Linked DNA regions of Homo sapiens. The protein of the gene in region 3 purifies or fractionates together with the protein of the main gene of each other region. This does not show direct contact. Each region holds a gene or a part of one and is shown on either strand. Other genes may lie near its edges. The genes, in order: FAM98B, VPS4B, PPP1R8, DGUOK, FARSB and FCSK.

Region 1 (4,100 bases), on a different chromosome or scaffold from region 3:
TCCACAACACAGACTAAAAGGGGCTGCATGCCCTGATTTTCACCTAACTCTTGAATCCAATTTCCCACCACTCTGCCCCTCACACTCTGCCTTCCAACCACATTAGCCTCCTTCCAGTTCTTCTAATACAGCAAGCTCCTTCACATTTCAAAGTCTTCACATTTTCTTCTCACTGTAAGGATATCTTTGTCCCCCTTTTTCATCCATCCAACCTTAACTACTTAATTTCTATTCACCCTTCTTATTTCAACTCAAATGTCACTTCCTCAGGAATCTATCACTAACCCCTAAGACTTCTTAGATCCTCCTGTTACATCACCCTGTTCTTTTCCTTTGACACATTTATTATAGTTTATAATTGTTTTTGTGATCATGTCTGTTTCTCCACTAGATTATAAACTCCACAAGGGTAGGAACCAAGTCTATTTTGCTCACCACTGACTCCTCAGAACGAGGTCCAATATACAGTGTGTTCAATAAATATTTAAAGGAAACTTCTCTCCATAGTAGTGTTTCTCAACTGAGTCTGTGAATCTTTTTAAAAATATGCAGGTCTGTACTGTACCTCTGAAGATTATGATTCGGTCAGTCTATGGTATATACTAGACTGGAACAGTTTTTCACAAGTTCCACACGACTCTGATGTACTTCCAGTGTTGAGATCTACTATTCCACAAAATCAGAGACTATCAGAACTGAAAGAGACTTCTAAAATCATCTGCTCCAGCCCTCTCTTTTCACAGATGAGAAAACTGACTGACTCCTAGCCTATCCTGTTTTCACCTGTATCACTAAATTGTCCTTTCACATAGATTTTTCCCTTCAAATGCCTCCCATTAATTTATTTTACATGACAAACTGAAGTACCTTTGCTGATATCCTCAATACCTTACAACAGAAAATGCATTATTCACTATCTACATGGATATTTGAAAACACAGTGTTCCATTACAACACATATTGTAAATAACTACTTTTTTCACATCGTATTATCATAGGAGAATTCAAACTTCAAAATGTTGCCCTCATAGTTATTCCAGGAAAAACTAATTTTGGAGTGTGTAAACTGTTTTACTTTCCATGTTGAATAATCTGACTAATTTTCCTTGATAAAAATCAAGATTATAGCAATGAATTTTCTAAAACACTTATAATATGAACAATAAGTTCAAGAAATGAAGAAAGAAGAAAAGCACTGCCTTTTCCTTTTTCATAAACCATTTATGAGTTCCCAATATTCTTACCTGAAGTACTTGGGAGCTCAAACTGTTTGGAGCCTAAATAATTCTACTAAGTATTTTCAGTTCTTGTTTTGGTTCCTTCTTAACCAAGTTAAGTGAGAACTTCCAAGGGACTTCACAGAAGTAAAAATGCCCCCTAAATAATCAATGGCACTGTTCTTTCGTTTGACAAATATGTATTCACGATCTACTAAGTGCAAGACTCCGTAACCCTGGGTCACTGCAAAGTAGGTATTATCAGGGTTCAACTAAAGAAACAATTGATAGAGGGGCAAATGCAGTTTTAGAGAAGATAAAGTGGGGTGTGGGATTGGTTCAAGCTTCATAATAACGCTGCAAAGGCACAGCTTCCCCTATCAAGAAACAGCAGCACGTAGCAGGGCAAACAAATGTGCAGATGGCTCCAAGCTCTTTATTTAATGTGCACTGTATGACTCAACTATCTGGTCCTATGCTTACTGCTGTGGACTCTTCTCTAAGCTTTTCTTCATTCATTTACTCATTCATTCAACCACTATTTACTGTAAAAGACTCCGTTCTAGTGTGTTGCTGGGAAAACATCGGTGAATAAAATATGCAAAGCATCAGTTTTCCAGGAGCTGACTTGGGGAGGAGGAGGAATAAAACGAGGGAGAAGCAGAGTTCAAGAGACAAATGAATGGGCAGGACATGATAATTTGGGATGGGGACAAGAGCTGTGTGGAAAAAAACAGGATGAGGTTGAGGGGGAGATTACGAACCACCACACTTGTTAAGTATTAACATTACTCCCACCTCCACCCTGAGTTCTCACAGCACTTACCATTCTGCACTGTAAATACCAGCCGGCAGCAGACTTGCAGCCTGCGCGACTATGTAAGCCAAGAGTAATCTGAAAAACTATCCTTTTCCCTTGCCTAGGGGAAATTTACAAACGTAAATATGTGTAAATTAATATACAAGCTAATATACACGTTGACGAACGGACGAAATGGTTGAAAGAACGAACTCGCAATGAACTACAACACTTTCTCCGGTCAAAGTAAAAGCCATTCGCTCCAGAGCCCCAAGTAAGCCACAAGTTGTACATTGTAGGAGACAACAGTCCTCAACAGCAGCTCAGGTTCCAGCACCTCCCTCCGGGCGCCAGAACTACGTCAACACAAATATCACCTGCGGGCGCGAGCTAGCCCAGAAAACCGGTGCTAGAAGGGCCGCTCCGCGCCACCCGGCGGATTCCTGCAACAGAGTTTCGAGGCAAGAAGTTTCGAAGAGGGGGCCACGAACCCCAGCTCTCCGGCCCTGCTCCACCCCCCAAATAGATTTCTCTCCCGCCTCCCGCTTAACTCCGTCGGCGCCGGAGGGATCGAGGCAGGGAAGGAGGCCTACACATGGCCGCCCAGGCCCACAGAGGCCCAAGGGAAGTAGGCTAAGCAGCCAGGCCAAGGAGAGGTTGCGTTTTCAGGGAAAAGGCGTCTCCAAAAGCACTCACCCCAGCGCCTCCAGTGTGTCCAGCACGTCTCCCTCCATCGTCGGTTGGGGACCCGGCTCCGGCCCTCTCATGGTCCTTTGGCCCAGAGCTGTTCGGCGCTCTAAGTAGCCCGCCGGAAACTAGCGTCACCGCGCCAAGGTTCCGGTCCGGGTCTGGCCGGTAACTGCCTGAGAGCACAGCTGAAGAAGGGCGCAAAGGTTCCCAGCCCCGAGGCAATAAACACTTCATAGTGCCTAAAACCGCTGCGTGTAACGATAATAATTTTTTAAAAGAATAGTAGAAATAATAAATAATAGTAATAAAGAGTTCTCTGTGTTGGGACTTTTCTGTGTGTTCAAATAAATTTTAGCAAATATCGTGGTATCGGGTTGATCTCAACCTATCCGATTCCAGACCTTTTTAATAACAGAAATCTGAAATAAAATTATAATTATCTTCAGCTAAAATTAGTAACTAATATCACATGCCTACACATATAATTTTTAAATCAATATACACGACGATGCTTCAACTTGAAGGAAAAAATGAAGTAATTTATAACAAGGTAATATTTTTCTCCTTATGAAATGCGGAAGACCAATGAAGTGATCAGATGCTTGCATCTATCTATGTAGAATCCCCTCAACTGCATATTCAGATGATGTGCTTCATTGCTGACAAAGCATTAGTTGTATAAGCAACAAACATACCGCCAGCAAAGTAAGGTAGTTGATGTGGTTTTCCAAAATTGTGGCGAATTCTCTGTAAAGTTCCAAACAAACAAAACATAATATACCCTCTGTGTACTATCCATGAAGAATTCAATCTCTTATCTAAAGGATTTAAAAAATGTATTTTAGGGTTCATATGTAAAAGGTACTAAGAGTATAAGGTTAGATCATTATTAGCAGGCATGTCACCTACATGAATACTCTAGCAGAACTGTTGGAAATCCTGCATGAAGTATAACTATTGATCCCTTGTATGGACCTGTCCCTTCCATTGCAGACTACATAGCATTCGTAGCCCCAGTCCAATAAAGACCAGTAATGCTCTCGCCTTCCTAATTATGGTTACAAACAAAAAGCATACCCATAAATGTGTAAAACACTCAAAGGTAAGCTGTAGTAGTCCACTCTCATATTGCTATAAAGATATACCTGAGACTGGGTAATTTATAAAGAAAAGGGGTTTAATTGGCTCATGGTTCCACAGGCTGTACACGAAGCATGATGCTGGCATCTGCTCCACTCCTGGGGAGGCCTCAGGAAATGGACAGTTGTGGCAGAAGGGGAAGGGGGAGTGCAGCTATCACGTGGCCGGAGTAAGAGGAAGAGAGAGGGTGCAGGGAGGCAGGGAGGTGCCACACACTTTTTTTTTTTTTTTCAGTCTCGCACTGTCGCCCAGGC
Region 2 (3,559 bases), on a different chromosome or scaffold from region 3:
CATAAGGAACATGGACTACTTTTGTGGCATTTTTTTAAAAAGTCCCAGAAATAAATCCATACTAATAAAGCCAAGAGATTTTTGAAAATGATGCAAAAAGCCAGTCAATGGCACCGAGTCAGGCTTTTTAAGAAGTGGTGCTAGAGGAACTAGACATCCATAAGCATACACCTAAAAGAATTCTGACTTAAACTTAATACTTCCTACAAAAATTAACTCAAAAATGGATCATAGAATTAAATGTAAAACTACAAAACTTTGATTCTTATTTATTTGTTGAGACGGGGCTCCATCTCACTATGTCGACCAAGCTAGCCTCAAACTCCTGGGCTCAGGTGATCATCCTGCATCAGCCTCCCCAAATAGCAGGATCACAAGTCCACACCACCGCACCCAGCTAAAACTTTTAGAAAAAACATGGAAAACTTAGGATCTGGGGATGCGCAGAGTTCTTAGATTTGACATCAAAAGCATACTATATAAAAGAAAAAAAAAGGTAACTGGATCTTATGACAAAACTTTTGCTCTCTGGAAGATTTTGTTAAAAGGATGAAAGGACAATCTATAGACTGGGAGAAATATTTGCAAAACATATCTAACAAAGAACTAGTATCGAGAATACATAAAGAACTCTCAAAATGTAACACATATCTACATGTGATAAAACTGCACAAACAACCACACCCACACACATAAAAACACATAAGGACAAGTAAAACTGGGAAAATATGAGTAAGAGTGGTGGAATGTATCAATATCAATATCCTGGTTGTGATATTGTCCCAGTTCTACAAGATGCTGCCACTGCAGACAACTGGATAAAGGGAATGCTGGATTCTCAGTATTTCTTACAACTGCGTGTGAATCTACAATTATCTCAAACTAAAATTCTCCTGAGCTCAGGAGTTTGCGACCAGCGTGGGCAACACAGTGAAACCCCGTCTCTACTAAAACACAAAAAATTGACCAGGCGTAGCGGCATGCGCCTATAGTCCCAGCTACTTGGGAGACTGAGGCAGGAGAATTGCTTGAACCCGGGAGGCGGTGGTTGCAGTGAGCCAAGATCATGCCACTGCACTCCAGCCTGGGCAACAGAGTGAGACTCCACCTCAAAAAAAAAAAAAAAAAAATTATGCACAGATACATACAAATAAAGGGCAAACATGACTTATTAAAACATTCCAACTGGGTTAATTTAGGTAGTAAAACTATTCAACAGAAATAGGTGCCAGTAAAAAAAAATGAAAATTGACAGTTGTTAGAGATATTAAAAAGTAAGTATATAACATAAGCAAAAAATCATTCAAACAATGCAAAAACCAATTATGTGTAAGAATATTACATTTTGGGGCAGTTGAGCATGGATTGGATATAACTGGGCTGAGATCTGTAAATGGGAGGAACAGGTCTCCCGCTGGAAGACCATGCTTCCTCTATTGTAGCAGGGAAGAAAAATAAATGGTTTACTTCAGAATTGATAAAATGTAATAGTTACGTATCTCACAGGTCAAGTAGCCTAAATTCAAAGCTAAATTTTCAAGTTTTATCAGCTAGTATATGAACATAAAACATGGAGTCACACAGTCAAGTGGTGGTTAGGTCAGACTGGTCATATAAAAATGCACCACAGCCAAGATTGTGCCACTGCACTCCAGCCTGGGTGACAGAGTGAGGCCAAGCACAGTGGCTCACGCCTGTAATCCCAGCAGTATGGGAGGCCGAGGAGGGCGGATCACTTGAGGTCAGGAGTTCGAGACCAGCCTGGCCAATATAATGAAACCCCATCTCTAAAAATACAAAAAATATTAGCCAGGCGCCTGTAATCCCAGCTACTTGGGAGGCTGAGTCAGGAGAATCGCTTGAATCCGGGAGACAGAGGTTGCAGTGAGCCGAGATCATGCCACTGCACTCTAGCCTGGGTGACAGAGCAAGACTCTGTCTCAAAAAAGAAAAAAAAAAATGCATCTCAAAGCCTCAGTGGTTAAGCCACATAGCAGAAATAAATCCTTTTTCTTTTTTCTTTTGAGATGGAGTCTCACTCTTGTCGCCCAGACTGGAGTGCAATGGCGCCATCTTGGCTCACTGCAATCTCTGCCTCCCAGGTTCATGTGATTCTCCTGCCTCAGCCTCCCCAGTGGCTGGGATTACAGGCACCCACCACCATGCCTGGCTAATTTTTGTATTTTTAGTAGAGATGGGATTTCACCATGTTGGCCAGGCTGGTCTCAAACTCCTGACCTCAGGTGATACACCTGCCTCAGCCTCCCAAAGTGCTGGGATAACAGGCGTGAGCCACCGTGCCTGGCCTAGAAATAAGCTCTTTCTTATCCTAACTATAATTTTCTTCTCAGGTGATTTTGAAATGCTGTGCCACTCACCTCTTCAGCCACTTGTTCCTCTCATTCAGTCAGGCCTCACTGAGGCACCACACTGATTTTTATTAAGTTAAATCTCTTATACTGCAGTGGGTATTATTTAAGCATCTAGCTCCAAACATAGTGCTAATTAAACCAGCCTTTCCCTGATGATGAGAATGTCTGTATATGGCTTCTGAGCACTTGAAATGTGGCTAGTGTGACTGAGGAGTGAGTTTATGTAATTAAAATAGCCACATGCAGCCACTGTACTGGGTGGCACACGTTAAACCTTTAATCGAAGACGATGAATTAAGAGGATATGCATCTGTTTTTTTTCTGCTGATGAATACCATTTCAACCTTATTTCTGTTAACATTTTTCATCTGAAATAAAATTAACCATGTCTGTTAGCATTTTTCATTTGAAATAAAATTAACCATGTCTTCTATGGTTAATTCTGGAGAGCTAATTATTTTATTTTTTCATTCCAGAAAGCTTTACCGGAGGGATCCATACAAAGGACATCCCCGCACTTCCATAGTTTCTTGATGGACATGTTTTACTCTCTATCCTTCTGCATGACGCTGGCTACTGCTATCTCAAAGTCCTCCTGGGTGACATGCACTCGCCGTTCCCTCAGGGCATATATGCTGCTTTCTCTGTATATGACTTTCACTTCAGCCCCTGATGCTCCTGGCATAAGCTTGGCAATTTTTCTCTGGTTGATCCCCTGGGTCAGGTTCCTTTTCAGAGAATGGATCTTCAAAATGTCCAGCTGGAATTCAATTTTTCTGTTGATGTGCCCTGAGTGAAGCAGTGGTCCATGATAACCTTGATCTTCTTGGGGGCCTCAAAGCTGTCCAGTTGGTTGAGCAGTTCCAGCACGATGTGCAGCACTTCACTGTCCCCTCCAGAACCCCCCTCCAGCTGCGAGGAGCTGATGGAGCTGATGACAGATGGCAGGTCCTCATGCCATGACAAACAGCTCCCTCACCATTCTTGGCCCTTCCCCGATGAATTTCTATACAAATTCAGAGCCAGGGATATGAACAAAGGTACAGTCTGTATGGTGAGCCACAGCCTAGGCAAACAGTGTCTTCCCAGTGCCTAGAGGTCCGTACAGCAGTACCACCCTGGGTTGTGTGATACCCAGTGCTTCAAAGAGCTTGGAATGCTTAACAGGCTGCTCGATCACTTCTGTG
Region 3 (3,559 bases):
AAATACAAAAAATTAGCTGGGCGTGGTGGCACACGCCTGTAGTCCCAGCTACTCGGGAGGCTGAGGCAGGAGAATGGTGTGAACCCGGGAGGCAGAGCTTGTAGTGAGCCGAGATCACGCCACTGCACTCCAGCCTGGGTGACAGAGACTCGTCTCAAAAAAAAAAAAGAGTTGTTACTGTCTTGAGGGCAGGCCACTTATATCTAATAGAATTAAGAAAAGTTGGGCCGGGCGCAGCGGTTGGCTCATGCTTGTAATCCCAGCACTTTGGGAGGCTGAGGAGGGCAGATCACGAGGTCAGGAGAACGAAACCATCCTGGCTAACACGGTGAAACCCCTACTAAAAATACAAAAAATTAGCTGGGCGTGGTGGCGGGCGCCTGTAATCCCAGCTATTTGGGAGGCTGAGACAGGAGAATCTCTTGAACCCGGGAGGCGGAGGTTGCAGTGAGCCGAGATCGCACCACTGCACTCCAGACTGGGCGACAGAGCGAGACTTAGTCTCAAAAAAAAAAAAAAGAAGTTGGCCAGCCATGGTGGCTCACACCTGTAATCCCAGCACTTTAGGAGGCTGAGGTGGGCAGATCATGAGGTCAGGAGTTCAAGACCAACCTGGCCAGTATGATGAAACCCTGTCTTTACTAAAAAATACAAAAAGTAGGCCAGGCTCGGTGGCTCACGCCTGTAATCCCAGCACTTTGGGAGGCCGAGATGGGCGGATCATAAGGTCGGGAGTTCGAGACCAGCCTGGCCAACATGGTAAAACCCCGTCTCTACTAAAGATACAAAAAATTAGCCGGGCATGGTGGCGCGTGCCTGTAATCCCAGCTACTTGGGAGGCTGAGGCAGGAGAATTGCTTGAACGCAGGAGTTGGAGGTTGCAGTGAGCCAAGATTGCACCATTGCACTCCAACCTGGGTGACAGGGTGGGACTCCATCTCAAAAAAAAAAAAAAAAAAAATTAGCTGAACGTGGTGGTGCACGCCTGTAGTCCCAGCTCCTTGGGAGGCTGAGGCAGGAGAATTGTTTGAACCCAGGAGGCAGAGGTTACAGTGAGCCAAGATCATGCAACTGTACTCCAGCCTGGGCAACAGAGTGAGACTCCATCTCAGAAACAAAAAAGAGAAAGAAAAGTTATTTTCATACCAACACTAGACAAACACTACATTGAGGAGATGAATTACCATCCATTCTCCAAAAAATGTTATTTTAGTAAATTATTCTGAGTACTTTATGTTGAAGAATAATGGGAGATATTTTTTTCTCCTTGGAAAGGATTTATTTTTCTTTTTTTGATGCAAGGAGATGGAGTTTTTACTCAATCTAATGGAAAGGAATTTTATCTACTCAAGATTCTCTATTTGGGAGAGTTTTTGGTAAATGCTGTTGAAACAAGATTTAAGTAATATTTAATTTAATATTTATTTAGAAACTGATTATTGATGAGAAGAAGTATTACTTATTTGGGAGAAACCCTGATTTGTGTGACTTTACCATTGACCACCAGTCTTGCTCTCGGGTCCATGCTGCACTTGTCTACCACAAGCATCTGAAGAGAGTTTTCCTGATAGATCTCAACAGTAGTAAGTAACTCCCTCCCAATTCACATGTTACCTTTAGGCAATATGAAAATACTCTTTGGGTTCTTTAGTTTGGAAATTACGTTTTATGGAAAAAGTTAATGTTTGGTTTTTAAATCCACCCTTCTCTATTTCTGTGATTTTTCTATTTTCCTGAGATAATTGCTAACTGACTGTGGAGAGAAGAGGGGTTTGGGGAGCACTGTCCTGGAGGAATCAATAAGCAAACATAAGCTGGATGTGGGGGCTCACATCTGTAGCTACTCAGGAAGCTGAGGCGGGAGGATCACTTGAGCCCAGGAGTTCAAGACTGCAGTGAGCTATGATCACACCACTGCACTCCAGTCCGGGTGACAGAACAAGACCCCATCTCTTAAAAACAAACAACCAAAAAAGAGCTGGGTGCAGTGGCTCACTCCTGTAATCCCAGCACTTTGGGAGGCCGAGGTGGGCGAATCATTTGAGGCCAGGAGTTTGAGACCAGCCTGGCCAATATGGTGAAACCTCGCCTCTACCAAAAATACAAAAATTAGCTGGGTGTGGCGGCGGGTGCCTGTAATTCCAGCTTCTTGGGAGGCTGAGGCAGGAGAACCGCTTGAACCCAGGAGTGGAAGGATTCAGTGAGCTGAGATGGTGCCACTGCACTCTAGCCTGGGCAACACAGCAAGATTCTGTCTCAAAAAAATAAAGAAAAGGAAAAAGGCACCCAGGAACTAGGGACCATGTGTGTTCAAGTGTTTATAGGACCATAATAAATTGTGATTCTGTTTCAGCAGAAGCCATGATTAGCTCCATTGATGTAATAGAGCAGCAACATAGGGCATTTTAAGAATGATTGTCTTGAGGAAAATTTCATTATTCTGGTTCTTTATCCCATCTCTGTTTTGCTTTGACTGTGAATAATACCAGTTTTAATTCCATAAGCAAGGCCAGGCATGGTGACTCACACCTGTAATCCCAGCACTTTGGGAGGCCGATGTCAGTGAATCTCTCAAGCCCAGGAGTTCAAGACCAGCATGAGCAATGTAATGAGACCCGCGTCTCTACAAAAAAATACAAAAAGTAGCCCTGTATTGTGGAGTGCGCTATGGTCTCAGCTGCTTGGGAGGCTTAAGTGGGAGGATCGTTTGAGCCCAGGAGGTGGAGGTTGCAGCGAGCCATTATCGCATGACTGTACTCCAGTCTGGGTGACGAAGCAAGCCCTACCTCAAAAAAATAAAAATAAAATACTCCATAAGTATTAATTAATTGAAGTATCCATAAGCATACACCAATTAATAAGAGTTTAAACTTCGCCTAAGATAATCCACAGAAATGCAATTGAGATTTAACTGCATGGGGCCCTGAAGTTTGTTCATTTTGCCCGTGTGTGAATACAGTGTAAAATGTAAAGGGTCCTGCTTCCTGGGCATATCATGTTGGACTCCACCACTCTCCTACTACCATACGCAGAAACATACACTCACACATCACCCTAATCTGCTTATATAAGGGTCTTGGAGAGCTTTGTCTCGCAAATACTTATCTTTTCTCTCCCATTTTATAACATGCAGAATGCCAACAGGGGAAAATATTCAGAATCTATAGTAGGATTTTGGCTTGCTTTGGCATTGATATTGCACCTGTTTCAGCCAAGCTCTTTCTTGTCCTGGGGAAAACCTAAGCATAACTGCCACCAGGCCAGCAATTTCTATATTCTTTTGACTTGGAGCTGGAGAGGGAAAACTACAGTGATGTCCAGCTCCTGCTTTGGGAGGCGTGGCTTCTGCTGGGTTGGAGCCATTCTTATTTGACCCAGAATGGAGCCAAGCCTGTATGGCAGCAGAGAACGGTCAGTGGTATTTGTTATCTGGGGGAACAACAGGTCTGAGGATATAAGAAACCCACCGAGGAGATTCAAGGCTCAGTGAGGGAGTTTCCTTCTCACTGTAACACATGATGGATGTGGTGGACCCAGTGCCATTTTCATTTTTTAAAAA
Region 4 (3,993 bases), on a different chromosome or scaffold from region 3:
AGTATAACACAGCTGATCATTCCCTCCCACTGAATACCTTCTTCACTTGGCTTCCAGGATATCATTCTCTTTTGTTTTTTTCTCCTACCTCAGTAGGCATTCCTTCTCAGTCTCTGCTTATTCCTTCCCATCTCCCCAGTTTCATAATATTTGCATGCTCAGGGCTCAGTCCTTTCCATCAACACATAGTCTCTGGCATTAAATACCACCTACATTTACAGCTCCAGTCCGGGGAGACCCTAATTCTGAACTTACATATCCAATTACCTATTCAACACCTCTACTTGGATATTAATAGGCATGTAAAAACCTAACATGCTTAAAACCAAGGCTCACTTCTGTAATCCCAGCACTTTGGGAAGCCAAGGCAGGAGGATCAATTGAGCCCAGGAGATCAAGACCAGCCTGGAAAATATAGTGAGACCCTGTCTCTACAAAAAATATACAAAATTAGCCACGCATAGTGGCAAACACCTGTGGATCCAGCTACTCAAGAGGCTAAGGTGGGAGGATGGCTTGAGCCTGGGAGGCAGGCTGCAGTGAGATGCAATTGCATCACTGTATTCTAGCCTGGCAACAGGGCAAGACCACACCAAAGGAGGGGAAGCGAGGGGAGGGGAGGAAGAAGGAGAGGAGGAAATAAAAGAAAATCAGGAGTCTATCTTTCAAGTACTCAAGTCAAAATAATTGGAGTCATCATTGGCCCCTCTCTTTACCTTACACTCTGCATTCAACCTGTCACCAAATCCAATTGGCCCTATCTTAAAATATAACTAGAACCCAATCATTTCTCACCACTTCCACTGTTAAATTTTACTTAAAATGTAACTCAATTTTTGTTAACGTATAACTAGAATCCAATCACGTCTCACCACTTTCACTTTTCACAATACTATAATTATTGCAATACCACTTAACACTCTTCACTTTCAATGTTATCAGCCACAGTGATCTTTTTATAATCTAAGTAAAACTGTCACTTGACTCCTCAAACCTTCCAATGGCTACCCATCTCGGTAAGATTAAAAACCCATGATAAGGCCTATAAAATCTGGCCACCCCTTGGGCTTTTGCCCTAATTTCCCTCCCATCCTTGCTCACTCGACTTCAGTCACAACGATTTCCCTCCTATTCCCCGAACACACTTTCCACCTCAGGGCCTTTCCAATTGCTCTTCACTCTGCCTAGAAGATTCTTCTCCCAGGTATCCACGTGATTTGCTCCCTCATCTTCAGTTTTTTGCTCAGATGTCACCTTCTCAGTGAGGCCTTGCTTATTTTATTTAAAATGACAACTTCGGCCAGGTGCAGTGGCTAACGCCTATAATCCCAGCACTTTGGGAGGCCGAGGCAGGCGGATCACCTGAGGTTAGGAGTTTGAGACCAGCCTGGCCAACATGGTGAAACCCTGTCTCTACTAACAAAACAAAAATTAACTGGGTGTGGTGGCGGGTGCCCCTAATCCCAGCTATTCGGGAGGCTGAGGCAGGAGAATCGCTTGAACCAGGGAGGCAGAGGTTGCAGTGAGTCGAGATCGTGTCATTGCACTCCAGCCTGGGTAACAAGAGCAAAACTCCATCTCAAATAAAATAAAATAAAAACTTCCCTCAATTCTTCATCCCTAATTTTTCTCCATCATACTTATTACTCTCTAACATATTGTTCACCTTGCTTAATTTATGTTGTTTATTGTCCATCTCTCCCTACTTGAGTTCCATGAGAGCAGAGATTTTTATTTGTTCTATTCACAGCTGTATTCTCCAGGCCAAGAACAGTGCTGGCATATGGAAGTGGCTCAAAAGGTGATTTGTTGAATGAATAAAAAAAGAAATTCTCAGTTTGCTGCTACGTCTTCAGTACTCAACACTTGCTAAGCCCCTTTTAGGGGCTCAGTGACTTGGTAGATAAAAGTATCAAGTCAGAATTTATTAATATTAAATCGAAATGCTTTGCCTTCATTTTGCTTTCTGACTACTTTTTATTCAAGATACTGGATCTCACTCTTTTAACAAAATAATTTTTAATTTAATACATGTTTTTAAGTTTAAAAAGTGAGGTTCTTCTAAGAAAAGCCTTAAGAAATTATTATGCAACTAGCACAGGCACAGGGCAAAAATTGTGAATGTGGTATTTGAACGACTGAAATTTAGGAACTCTCTTCGAATAGGGTTGCCAGATAAAATACAGGACACAGTTAAATTTGAACTTTCAATGAGTGATTTCGTTGTTGTTTTGCTGTAAGGATGTCCCAAATATTGCATTGGACACACACTAAAAATTATTCGTTATCTTAAATTCTATTTTAACTGGATATTATTTTTAATTTCTGCTAAATATGGCAACCCTATCTAGGAGAACAAATAAACTGCACCCGCTTGTCGCTTCAATTTCGATCTATTACAAACAGCTAATACAATTCTTGTCCTATCCACTAACTGCGTGGCTTTTATGCCCCAACAAATATGTTCCTGTGGGCGGGTACTGAGGCCCGATATCCTAAAAACAAGGAGGCAAAGATACACAGTGCACTTTGCGAGGGGAAAGGCTCTCCTCGCAGCCCAGAAAAAGAGGCCGGCCGCATCAGACGCAGGCCATTCCGGGCCCAGCTCCTTTCCCAGCCTCTGTCGCCTGCGTGGCGGAGGCCAAGGCTTGGCAGCCGCTTTCCGGCCCTTACCAATGTTGCCTTCGATGGAGAGCCTTCGGGGCCCGCGCCCCGCGTGCAGGCCTCTGGAGGAGGAAACGCCCTCGAGTGGGCTCTTGGCCATGGAACTGAAGGGTGCTCGAAGCCGACTTAGAAAGAGGCGGCCCGCGGCCATCCCACCCACGATTCACACAGCGATCACTTCCGCCGAGAGCACTTCCGCCCTAGGTATCGCTGCTCACTCGCTCCAGCGCACCGTTGACGTAAGGAGATCGTCAGACAGGAAGTGGGTGGGGTTGAACATGCGGCGGGGTGCGCCCAAGAGACCGCTCCGCTATCGCGATGTTTGTAAAGAAGCGTTGAGTGAAGGAAGTTTTGCAACGGTGCAGAATTTGATAGTAAAAGGAGTTGCGGTGCGAGTGGTTTTTGTTCATTGGACAAATAACATTTTAAAAGACGTAATTCCACAATCCAACCACTTCATTTTTGTATAACTTTAAAATAAATTTTATAACTGAAGACAAAATTAAAAATAGAAATTGTAATTTTAAGAGGGGATTTCCCCCCCCCCAGGTGCTTGTTGTCTGGTTTTTATTTTAATATCGGAAGAAAATGGAAGTTTTAAAGTAGGAAAATGACTCAATCTGATGATTTACACAAATTTAACTTTTTCCTATTCCCTGTAATTCCCCTGCACAATGCTGGCATATTATTGACTAAATTAACAAATTAGATAATCAGTTACACCCCATCTCTTAGTTTGTGTCTTGAATAAGTAAATAAATGTTCGGTCAATCGATTTGCATTATACCCAAAAATCCCTTCAGGATAAGGTGGTGGTGGCTCAGGTATGTGACTGGAAATTGTTTAAACCTGGTAGGCTGGGTTCTTGGACGTAAGCAATGGCGAGTAGAGACTTGTATAAAACCTGAGTCCTGCTGTCGGTGAAGTGTGCTCTGCAGGAGGGCAGGGACCTAAGCTGCTGCCACAGGTGAAGCCGGACTGCCACACCCCGTCGTCATAACAACCTCAGAAGTAATGATTTACAAAATGTTGTCAAATGGTGCTTCCAGTTCCAATCGCTTAAATCACCAACAGTCAAAACCAGGAGTCAACAGGCCAAACCGGCCTTCAGGCAGCGCTCTTAGGTGTGGCAGGTTTTAGAAGACAAGGATCTGATTGCAAGGGGGCTGGGGAGGGGCCGGGGGCTGGGATACCTGTCTTGAAGCTGTTCCCATAAAAAGCACGGGACCTTTTTCTTATGTTGATGTATATATAGGATGGCTGAGGTCATGTTTATATATTAAGAACTTTTTTTTTAATCGAATTTTTTAAGGATAACCAGGGTGGGGC
Region 5 (4,257 bases), on a different chromosome or scaffold from region 3:
AAATATCCTTGCTAAGCAAAGAGGTGGTAAAAAGGAAGGTGGGGACTGGTAGAAACAATGGAATTTCAAATAGAAAGCAACCCTTGGAGGGACTAAAGAGAGAGAATGTGGATTTTAAAAGTGTGAATGAGACATTATCTGAAAACAAGAAAAAAAGAGGAAGACTGGGGAAAAAAAAAAAAGGTAAGAAACAAGATGTATCCATACTACTTGGAAACCACATGTTTGCTGAACATGCTTTTTCAATTCTGACCTCAACCCAGTTAACAGTTTCAAGCAAGAACACAATAAAGGTAAACTAATGAGGAGAATCATTTCTGACCTCTTGAAAGTACATCTCAATAAATAACATCAATCCTTCTGACTGAATTTTTTTTTTTTTTTTCTGAGACAGGGTCTCACTTTGTGGCCAGGGCTGGAGTGCAGTGGCTTGATCACCGCTCACTACAGCCTTGACCGCCTTGGTTTAAGCGATCCTCCGGCCACAGCCTCCCAAGTAGCTGGGACTACACGTATACACCACCACACCCAGCTACTTTTTGTAGAGACAGGGTTTTGCTGTGTTGCCCAGTCTGGTCTCCAACTCCTGAGCTCAAGCAATCTGCCCACCTCGTCCTCCCAAAGTGCTGTGATTACAAGCATCAGCCATGTACCTGGACCTTAAAAGATTCAGTAGCTAACAAACACATATTTGTGAAAAAATCAATCTTAATTGATCACTGACAATATGAAAAAAAAAGGGAAGCAGACAGAATATGTTAAAACATCAGATGATAGTAAATAGGTTATAAATCTCACCATTTTTAAAAATCTGGATTATTTCTTACCTCCCTAGAAATGGAGACTGGGATGGGAACTGATTATAGATGTTTTGAACAAATATTTGCCACCTACCATCTTAGGCAATTCAGGTATACAGACTGAGCATTCCCAATCCAAAAATCTGAAATCTGACATGCTCCAAAACCCAAAACCTTAAAGTGCAGACATGATGTCACAAGTGGAAAATTCCACACCTGACTCCATGTGACTTGTCAAAAACACAGTCAAAACCTTGTTTCATGCAAAAAAAAATTATTTAAAGTATTCCATAAAATTAACTTCAGGCTATGCATATAAGGTATATGTGAAATATAAATCAATTTCATGTTTAGACTTGGTCCCACCCCCAAAATATCTCATTATGTATATGCAAATATCCCAAAATCCAAAATCCAAGACGCTTCTGGTCTCAAGCATTTTGGATAAGGAATTATTAACCTGTACCACATCCCATTAGTGAGAATATGGTTTAGAAGGGCAGGTAAGAAATATAAATAAGCTCATTATAAAATAAAGCGATTAGGCGATTAGAGCCAAGTACAAAGGGTAAGAGTAATACAATACCCTTGTATTTCCTTTACTTTCAGGGACTTATGGCAGAACTTACGAAGAATATCACATAGAGAATAGGTACTATCTAAAAGTACACACTTAGGAAAGATTCTTAAAAGCCAGCTTTATTTTCACTGTAACAGTAATCTTATTCTGGGAAGCGGTGGCTGTCATTAAACCAATTAGGCCTTTGTTAACACACTGAGCCCTAAAAACAAAAAAAACAGCTCTCACGAACCAGTTGGTCCAGCCTTTATACAAGCTAAAAATTATGGGGTGGGGGCCGGGCGCGGTGGCTCACGCCTGTAATCCCAGCATTTTGGGAGGCCGCGGCAGGTGGATCACGAGGTCAGGAGTTTAAGACCAGCCTGGCCAAGATGGTGAAACCTGGTCTCTCTAAAAATACAAAAAAATTACTCGGGCGCGATGGCGGACGCCTGTAATCCCAGCTACTCGGGAGGCTGAGGCAGAAAATTGCTTGAACAGGGAGACGGAGGTTGCTGTCAGCCGAGATCGCGCCACTGCACTCCAGCCTGGGAGTGCAGACTCCGTCTCAAAAAATAAAAATAAAAAAAAAAATAGGGTGGGGCAGCTGCTACGGCTGTGAGGTAACTGATAACTGCATTTAATATCTCCCTCCTTTTTTTCAATGGTTGTGTTTTTAGAACTGATTAAAAGATGAAATGTAGAATGAAGTCTACACCCATTTAATACTCCCCATTCAGGTCTCAGATCAAATGTTACCACCCTATCTAAAGTTGTTCTTGGCACAACACCTTTTCTTTCCTTGATGGCATTTAACATTATCCGAAATCATTTTATTAACGTGCTGGTTAATTGTCTGCCTCCATCAGACAGAACGTGGACCTGACGTGTCGTGTGCACAGCTCTAGTCCTAAGCTCTTAGAACAGTGCCTGACACATAACAGGCGCTCAGGAAACATTAATAAAACGAAGACAGGTGGAATGCCGTTCTCCACCCCGCTGCACAAATCTCTCCTCCTACCCCCTTATAAACTGAGTTCCCACAGCGCTGCTATTGCAATTAACTGGCTACGCTCGGGATGCAACCCCGGGTTTCCTTCCTGTTCTATCCCCTGGCTTGGATGTCGGTGCCAGGCACGCTGTAGGCACTCGATGGCAGATCGCTGAATGAATGACACGGCAAGCCGGGCACAAGCAGTGGCACCGCTGCGATGCCGGTTCCGAGGCTACCACAGCCCAGCCGGACCGCCACCATCATCGGCCTTCCCGCGTAAACCCCGGCCTCCCGGAGCCAAAACCTTCAGGAAGGCATGAATGTCGCCACATTGCCCTTTTGGAGGGAGGCCCTGCCTCCGAGAAGAGGCGTAGGGCCCAACGTATAGGGCCGCCACTCACTGTAGGTGCGGCCCAGGGCTTGGAAGAGCAGATCACGCTTCACGCTGACAGTCGGCATGGTGTGTCGAACTCACTGCGCCTGCGCAGCGAGCTGACCCGGGCTTCCCTAGCGAAGCGCGTAGGACCCGCCTCTTCTTGTGCGTGTTGTCTTGAATATCGCCATTCTGCTGGCAACAGTTCCTGTTCTCTTTTTAACCTAAAAACACTCATCATGCCATTACCTCGCTGATTAAATGTATCTTTATGAGACTAATAGCTTAAAAGCCTGTAAGAAAGATATAATTTGATAGAACTGGCTAGGATTTGTCAGGCATTGTAATGTACTGACCCTGAAGTCCCGGATGCTTCCAGGGCGCTAACGGCCGGGGACGCCCACCAGGTGGGCGGGGCGAGAGTGGGGCGCGTCAGGGAGGGGGTGGGGCCTCCACGTGGGAGATCTTGCCTGGAGGTGGTGGAAATGCGAGTGGAGAGGGTTCAAGGCTTCCTGCAGAGAAAGGTGTGCAAATCCTGGCGGCGGGAGAGGGGCTGTTAACAGACCTCAGTTTTTACTTCATTCTTTAATCTCTCCTCTACTCGTATAAGTGATATACCTGTGCTTTGTTTGAACTTTACGGCAGCCCTATAAGGGAGGCATTGTAAGAGACCTCTTTTTTTGTCTATTTGCTCAGTGCTCTCTGCTGTCAGTGGGCTGTGCTCAGCCCTCTGCCAGCATTAAATTTCCTCCTTAAAACAACCCTGAGTGTAATAGGCTGAATAACGGCCCCCAATAATATCAGACCCTAATCCCTGCAACCTCTAAATGTAACTTTATATGGAAACAGCGTCTTTGCAGGTTAAGTTAAGGATTTTGAGATGAAGATTATCCTGGATTCGAAAGACGAACACTAAATGGAATCACAGTATCCTCATCAAATCATAAAAGGGAGGTTGAGAGAGACGATTTAGCCACGGTGGCAGAGATTGGAGTATGGCAGCCACAACCCAAGGATGCCAGCAGCCACCAGAAACAAAGAGACAAGCACACACTGGGGGTGAGGGGGTGGAGGAGCGGGGAGCATCAAGAATAGCTAATAGATGCTGGGCTTAATACTTAGGTGATGGGATGATCTGGGCAGCAAACCACCATGGCATACATTTACCTATGTAACAAACCTTCACATCCTGCACATGTATCCCTGAAATAAACAGAGACAAGGACAGATTCACGCCCAGCCCATGGGGCAGCCCTATAATGCATGCTGATTTGGGCCCAGTGAAACTGATTTTGGGTTTCTGGCCTCCAGAACTGTGAGAGCATAAATTTATGGTTTAAGTCAGCAAGTTCGTGGTAATTTGTTTCAGCAGCCAAGGGAAACTAATACATCAAGATAGGTACCATTATCCCTGTTTTACAGGTAATGAAACTAAGGCACAAACTGGCAGTTCCAGGGGGAGCCTTGCCCTAATCCTTTCTACTGTACAGTGAGTGAGGGCTTCTTCCAAAGTCCTTCACATGAGGGGAGA
Region 6 (4,116 bases), on a different chromosome or scaffold from region 3:
CTTCCTCAGCCTCCCAAGCTGCTGGGACTACAGGTGCGCGCCACCACGCTCAGCTAATTTTTGTATTTTTAGTAGACGGGGTTTCACCATATTGGCCAGGCTGGTCTTCAACTCCCGACCTCATGATCCACCCGCCTCGGCCTCACCAAAGGGCTGGGACTACAGGTGCGAGCCACCGTGCCTGGCCTGAAAGAGGAAATTTTTAAAAGGCATGGGTAGGTAAGAGGCAAATGGCTGCATTCTTCTGAGTCTTTGATAAGCCTTTCACATGTTAGAGGGGGATAGAGGACTAGTCACTTATGCATTCATCTAGCTCAGTGAATATGCATTTTTACATAAGAAAAAATAAACATAGGGCAGAGGAAGCAATGAGATATGCATTTGTCTCAGGTGAGCTGAGAGATGACTTTCAGTGCTGTCAAAGCCCAGCACCTGTGAAGATAAGCTATAAATTTACATTGTCACTGAAATTCCACACAACTGTTTTAGGGTACAGATTTGGGGGCACACAAGGAATTTCCTAGTGGGCAAGTTGTGAGGGCCAGGCCATATCTAGCTTTTTTATCTTTGTAGTTATCTTGTTTAAGAATAAAATGGGAGGTAGGTTTCCCTGATGCAGTTCTCAGCTTGACTTTTCCCTTTGACTTAGTGACTTTGGGGTCCTGAGATTTATTTTCCTTTCACATAGTAACCTAGAGAGAGACACTCAGAGTATTTCCAATTGTCATCTATGACAATCAATGCTGCCATTCACAACTTTCCCAAAAGGTCCGCAGATCCCCTCCCCATTACGGAGTTGGAAAGTTTCTTCCCAAAGGATCCACGTGATGAAACCAGCGCAAACCTTTCCAACTGCAAATCGAATGGCAGCTGCTTCCGCTTGGGCAAAGCGTGATTTTTTTTTTTCCTCCATCAGTGGATTTTTCTCCAGAGGAAAGCGGAAGCTCCTGGTGCCGTCCAGAAGGTGTTAAAAAAAAAAAAAAAAAAAAACCCAAACGAGAAAACAAACAAAAAAGCTACACATTAACCTATTAACCTGGATCCCGGAGTCCCAGAAAACGGGCCTCTGTCTTTAAGGCGCTTCGGTCCTCTGGGAGTTGTAGTTTCGTGGGTCCTGGAGCGGCCCCCTTCCCATCTCCCTTCTGGATTGCAGCCCCGCTGCCCTTCAGGAAAGCGCTGCCCCGGCCACCCACGCTGGCCTATGCGGTGGCTCCGACCGTGTTTTTTGCCGGACGGGGGCTCGGCCTTGGGGGGGCGCGGAGGTGAAACTACACTTCCCGGAGTGCACCGCGAGGGTCGCGCAGCCTCGCGTTAAAGAGCCCGCTCCGCCGAGCGCCGGGCGACGGCAGGTACGTCAGTCCGCGAGGGTCGCCGCAGCGCCCCTTGCGCCCCTTGCGCCCCTTGCGCCCCCTCAGCTTTCCGGTGCACCCTCCCTGACTGGGAGCACCGAGTCGACCCGCGGGCCGCCCGGGTCCTGACAGGGAAGAGTCCCCGGGAGCTCTGCGGTGCCCCGGGAGCCCACAGGTGTTTCTACGCTCCCGCGTCCATTTGGCCTGGGTCTTCCAAGGGGAGCCCCGCGACCCGGCTGGTGCGGCCGGACCTGCTGGCAGCTGGGACCGGGAGGGATGCGGGCCTCAGAGGATCCTCACCCTGAGGCAGGTGGGGCCCTGGATGCCGGCGCTGCTCTGATTTTACTTTGAGGCCGCTTCTCCTCTCTCAGTTTACCCGGCCAGGGCTCAGTATTATGCACAAATCTCAATGATGTGCTCTTGGGTAATTTACAAAACGATTTTACTCCCAAGTAACTTCTTTCGGTCTGTTATTTAGAAGGCAGCAAGTCAGAGTCCTCCGTGAGCCTTTTTTTCCTCTTTAAAGTTCTAAAATGTGCAGTCCCTGACCCACCTGTCTTCAAAAGGTTCATATGAAGAGTTCTTAGTACTTTATTCTATCTCTGGCTCCCCAACCCTATCCCAGTCTTGGACAGCGTGGGGCTGAGGACACTAAAAAATATTTCAACTTGATCTCAGCAGATGAGGCTGTATTGAAAGTGGGTAGAGGCTGGGCGCCAAGGCTCATGCCTGTAATCCCAGCTACTTGGGAGGCTGAGGCGAGGGAATCGCTTGAACTCAGGAGATGGAGGTTGCAGTGAGCCAAGATCACGCCACTGCACTCCACCCTGGGCGACAGAGCGAGACTACGTCTCAAAAACAAAACAAAACAAACCAACAACAACAACAACAAAAGAACCTTAGGGCCTTAGGGCACACTTTCTCAGGACCTCTTGAGATTGTGTAACTCCAGCAAACTATTAATTAAAAAAAAAAAAAAGGCCGGGCGAGGTGGCTCACGCCTGTAATCCCAGCACTGTGGGAGGCGGAAGCAGGTAGATCACCTATGGTCAGGAGTTTGAGACCAGCGTGGCCAACATGGCAAAACCCCCTCTCTACTAATAATACAAAAATTAGCTGGGCGTGGTGGTGCACGTCTGTAATCCCAGCTACTTGGGAGGCTGAGGCAGGAGAATCACTTTAACCTGGGAGGCGGAGATTGCAGTGAGCCGAGATCGCGCCATTGCACTCCAGCCTGACGACAGAGGGAGACTGTCTCAAAAAAAAAAAAAGCCAGGCATGGTGGCTTACACCTGTAATCCCAACACTTAGGAAGGCCAAGGCGGGAGGATTACTTGAGTCCGGGAGTTGTAGGTCAGCCTGGGCAACAAAGGGAGGCCCCATCTCAACAAAAAATAAAAAACTAGCAGGACTCATGCATAGTCCCAGCTACTTGGGAGGCTGGGATGGGAGGATCGCTGGAGCCCGGGAGTTTGAGGCTGCAGTGAGCTGTGATCACATCACTGCGTTCCGCCCTCTGGTGACAGAGCCGGACCCTGTTTCTCAAAAACAAAACAAAACAAAACAAAAGCCTAGCCTGCCTGTGCTATTAAAGCAATGGCAAAAGCCAAAATTACTTTTGCACCAACCTAATAGCTATGTTTCTGCTTTTTAAACTACAGTTTTCTTGTCTAGAGCTTCAGTGAGATAAGAACCAATTCTTAGGACTGTTGGGTGGGTCATATGAAGTGACACTGATGTGCCTTTGCCATAGTGCCTGAAAAAGCACTCCATATGTATTAGCTACTTGTATCATTTTACCTTTTTTGTTAATCTCTCAGGGGATGTCCCTCAGCCTTGCTTGATTCCCGAGGCCTTCCCTGATTTTTTTCTTCTTCAGGACAGTCTTTAACTCAGAGAATGTTTGAGAGCTTCCAGTCCTTCCTCCTTCAGGGACAGGTTAAACTCTCCTGCTTCCTTGCCTGGCTGGAAGGATTATCATTCATTGAGCCACTGGTGTGTGCCACATACTTTACATTGTATTTCATGCTGAAAACAGTCCTGGGAGGTTGATGTCTTTGGCCTTAAATTTCAGATTAGGAAACTGAGGCTTAGAGAGGTTAAGTAACTGCTGGGCATGGTGGCTCACGCCTGTAATCCCAGCACTTTGGGAGGCCGAGGCAGGCGGATCCCAAGGTCAGGAGTTTGAGACCAGCCTGGCCAGCATGGTGAAACCCCGTCTCTACTAAAAATACAAAAAATTATCCAGGCATGGTGGTGCGCGCCTGTAGTCCCAGTTACTCGGGAGGCTGAGGCAGGAGAATGGCTTGAACCTGGGAGGCGGAGGTTGCAGTGAGCCAAGATTGCGCCACTGCACTCCAGCCTGGGTGACAGAGCGAGACTCCATCTTAAAAAAAAAAATAGATTAAGTAACTTGCTCAGGATCCTACAGGAAGCAGGAAGAGGTAGAGATGGGGACAGAGCCTTTTGGGACTGATACGCAACCCAGGACTGTTCCTCTGCCCCTGTCATTAGTAAGGGATACTCTCCCCACTCTGGCCATGACCTGTCACCTGCCCATGTCTCTCTATCACTATGCTGAGATGAAGACTGGGCTCAGAACTTCTGGGCCATTGGACTCTCTGGGGCATTTCTTTTTTTTCTTGAGACAGAGTCGCTCTGTTGCCCAGGCTAGAGTGCAGTGGCGTGATCTTGGCTCACTGCAGCCTCCGTCTCCTGGGTTCAAGTGATTCTCCTGCCTCAGCCTCCTGAGTAGCTGGGACTACAA

Evidence for each region.
Region 1: the proteins of PPP1R8 (region 3) and FAM98B fractionate together in Homo sapiens (co-fractionation; one large-scale study listed by BioGRID). This does not show direct contact.
Region 2: the proteins of PPP1R8 (region 3) and VPS4B fractionate together in Homo sapiens (co-fractionation; one large-scale study listed by BioGRID). This does not show direct contact.
Region 4: the proteins of PPP1R8 (region 3) and DGUOK fractionate together in Homo sapiens (co-fractionation; one large-scale study listed by BioGRID). This does not show direct contact.
Region 5: the proteins of PPP1R8 (region 3) and FARSB fractionate together in Homo sapiens (co-fractionation; one large-scale study listed by BioGRID). This does not show direct contact.
Region 6: the proteins of PPP1R8 (region 3) and FCSK fractionate together in Homo sapiens (co-fractionation; one large-scale study listed by BioGRID). This does not show direct contact.

What each region holds. Positions count from the first base shown.
Region 1 is NC_000015.10:38,452,845-38,456,944, reverse strand, and holds the start of FAM98B (protein FAM98B), read right to left. Parts: upstream 2,819-4,100; 5' UTR 2,784-2,818; coding exon 2,713-2,783; intron 1-2,712. UniProt on the Homo sapiens protein: Positively stimulates PRMT1-induced protein arginine dimethylated arginine methylation.
Region 2 is NC_000018.10:63,412,428-63,415,986, forward strand, and holds part of VPS4B (vacuolar protein sorting-associated protein 4B), read right to left. Parts: intron 1-3,559.
Region 3 is NC_000001.11:27,837,270-27,840,828, forward strand, and holds part of PPP1R8 (nuclear inhibitor of protein phosphatase 1), read left to right. Parts: intron 1-1,429; coding exon 1,430-1,583; intron 1,584-3,559. UniProt on the Homo sapiens protein: Inhibitor subunit of the major nuclear protein phosphatase-1 (PP-1). It has RNA-binding activity but does not cleave RNA and may target PP-1 to RNA-associated substrates. May also be involved in pre-mRNA splicing.
Region 4 is NC_000002.12:73,925,733-73,929,725, reverse strand, and holds the start of DGUOK (deoxyguanosine kinase, mitochondrial isoform a precursor), read right to left. Parts: upstream 2,847-3,993; 5' UTR 2,816-2,846; coding exon 2,674-2,815; intron 1-2,673.
Region 5 is NC_000002.12:222,653,262-222,657,518, forward strand, and holds the start of FARSB (phenylalanine--tRNA ligase beta subunit), read right to left. Parts: upstream 2,832-4,257; 5' UTR 2,813-2,831; coding exon 2,755-2,812; intron 1-2,754.
Region 6 is NC_000016.10:70,453,282-70,457,397, forward strand, and holds the start of FCSK (L-fucose kinase), read left to right. Parts: upstream 1-1,313; 5' UTR 1,314-1,349; intron 1,350-4,116.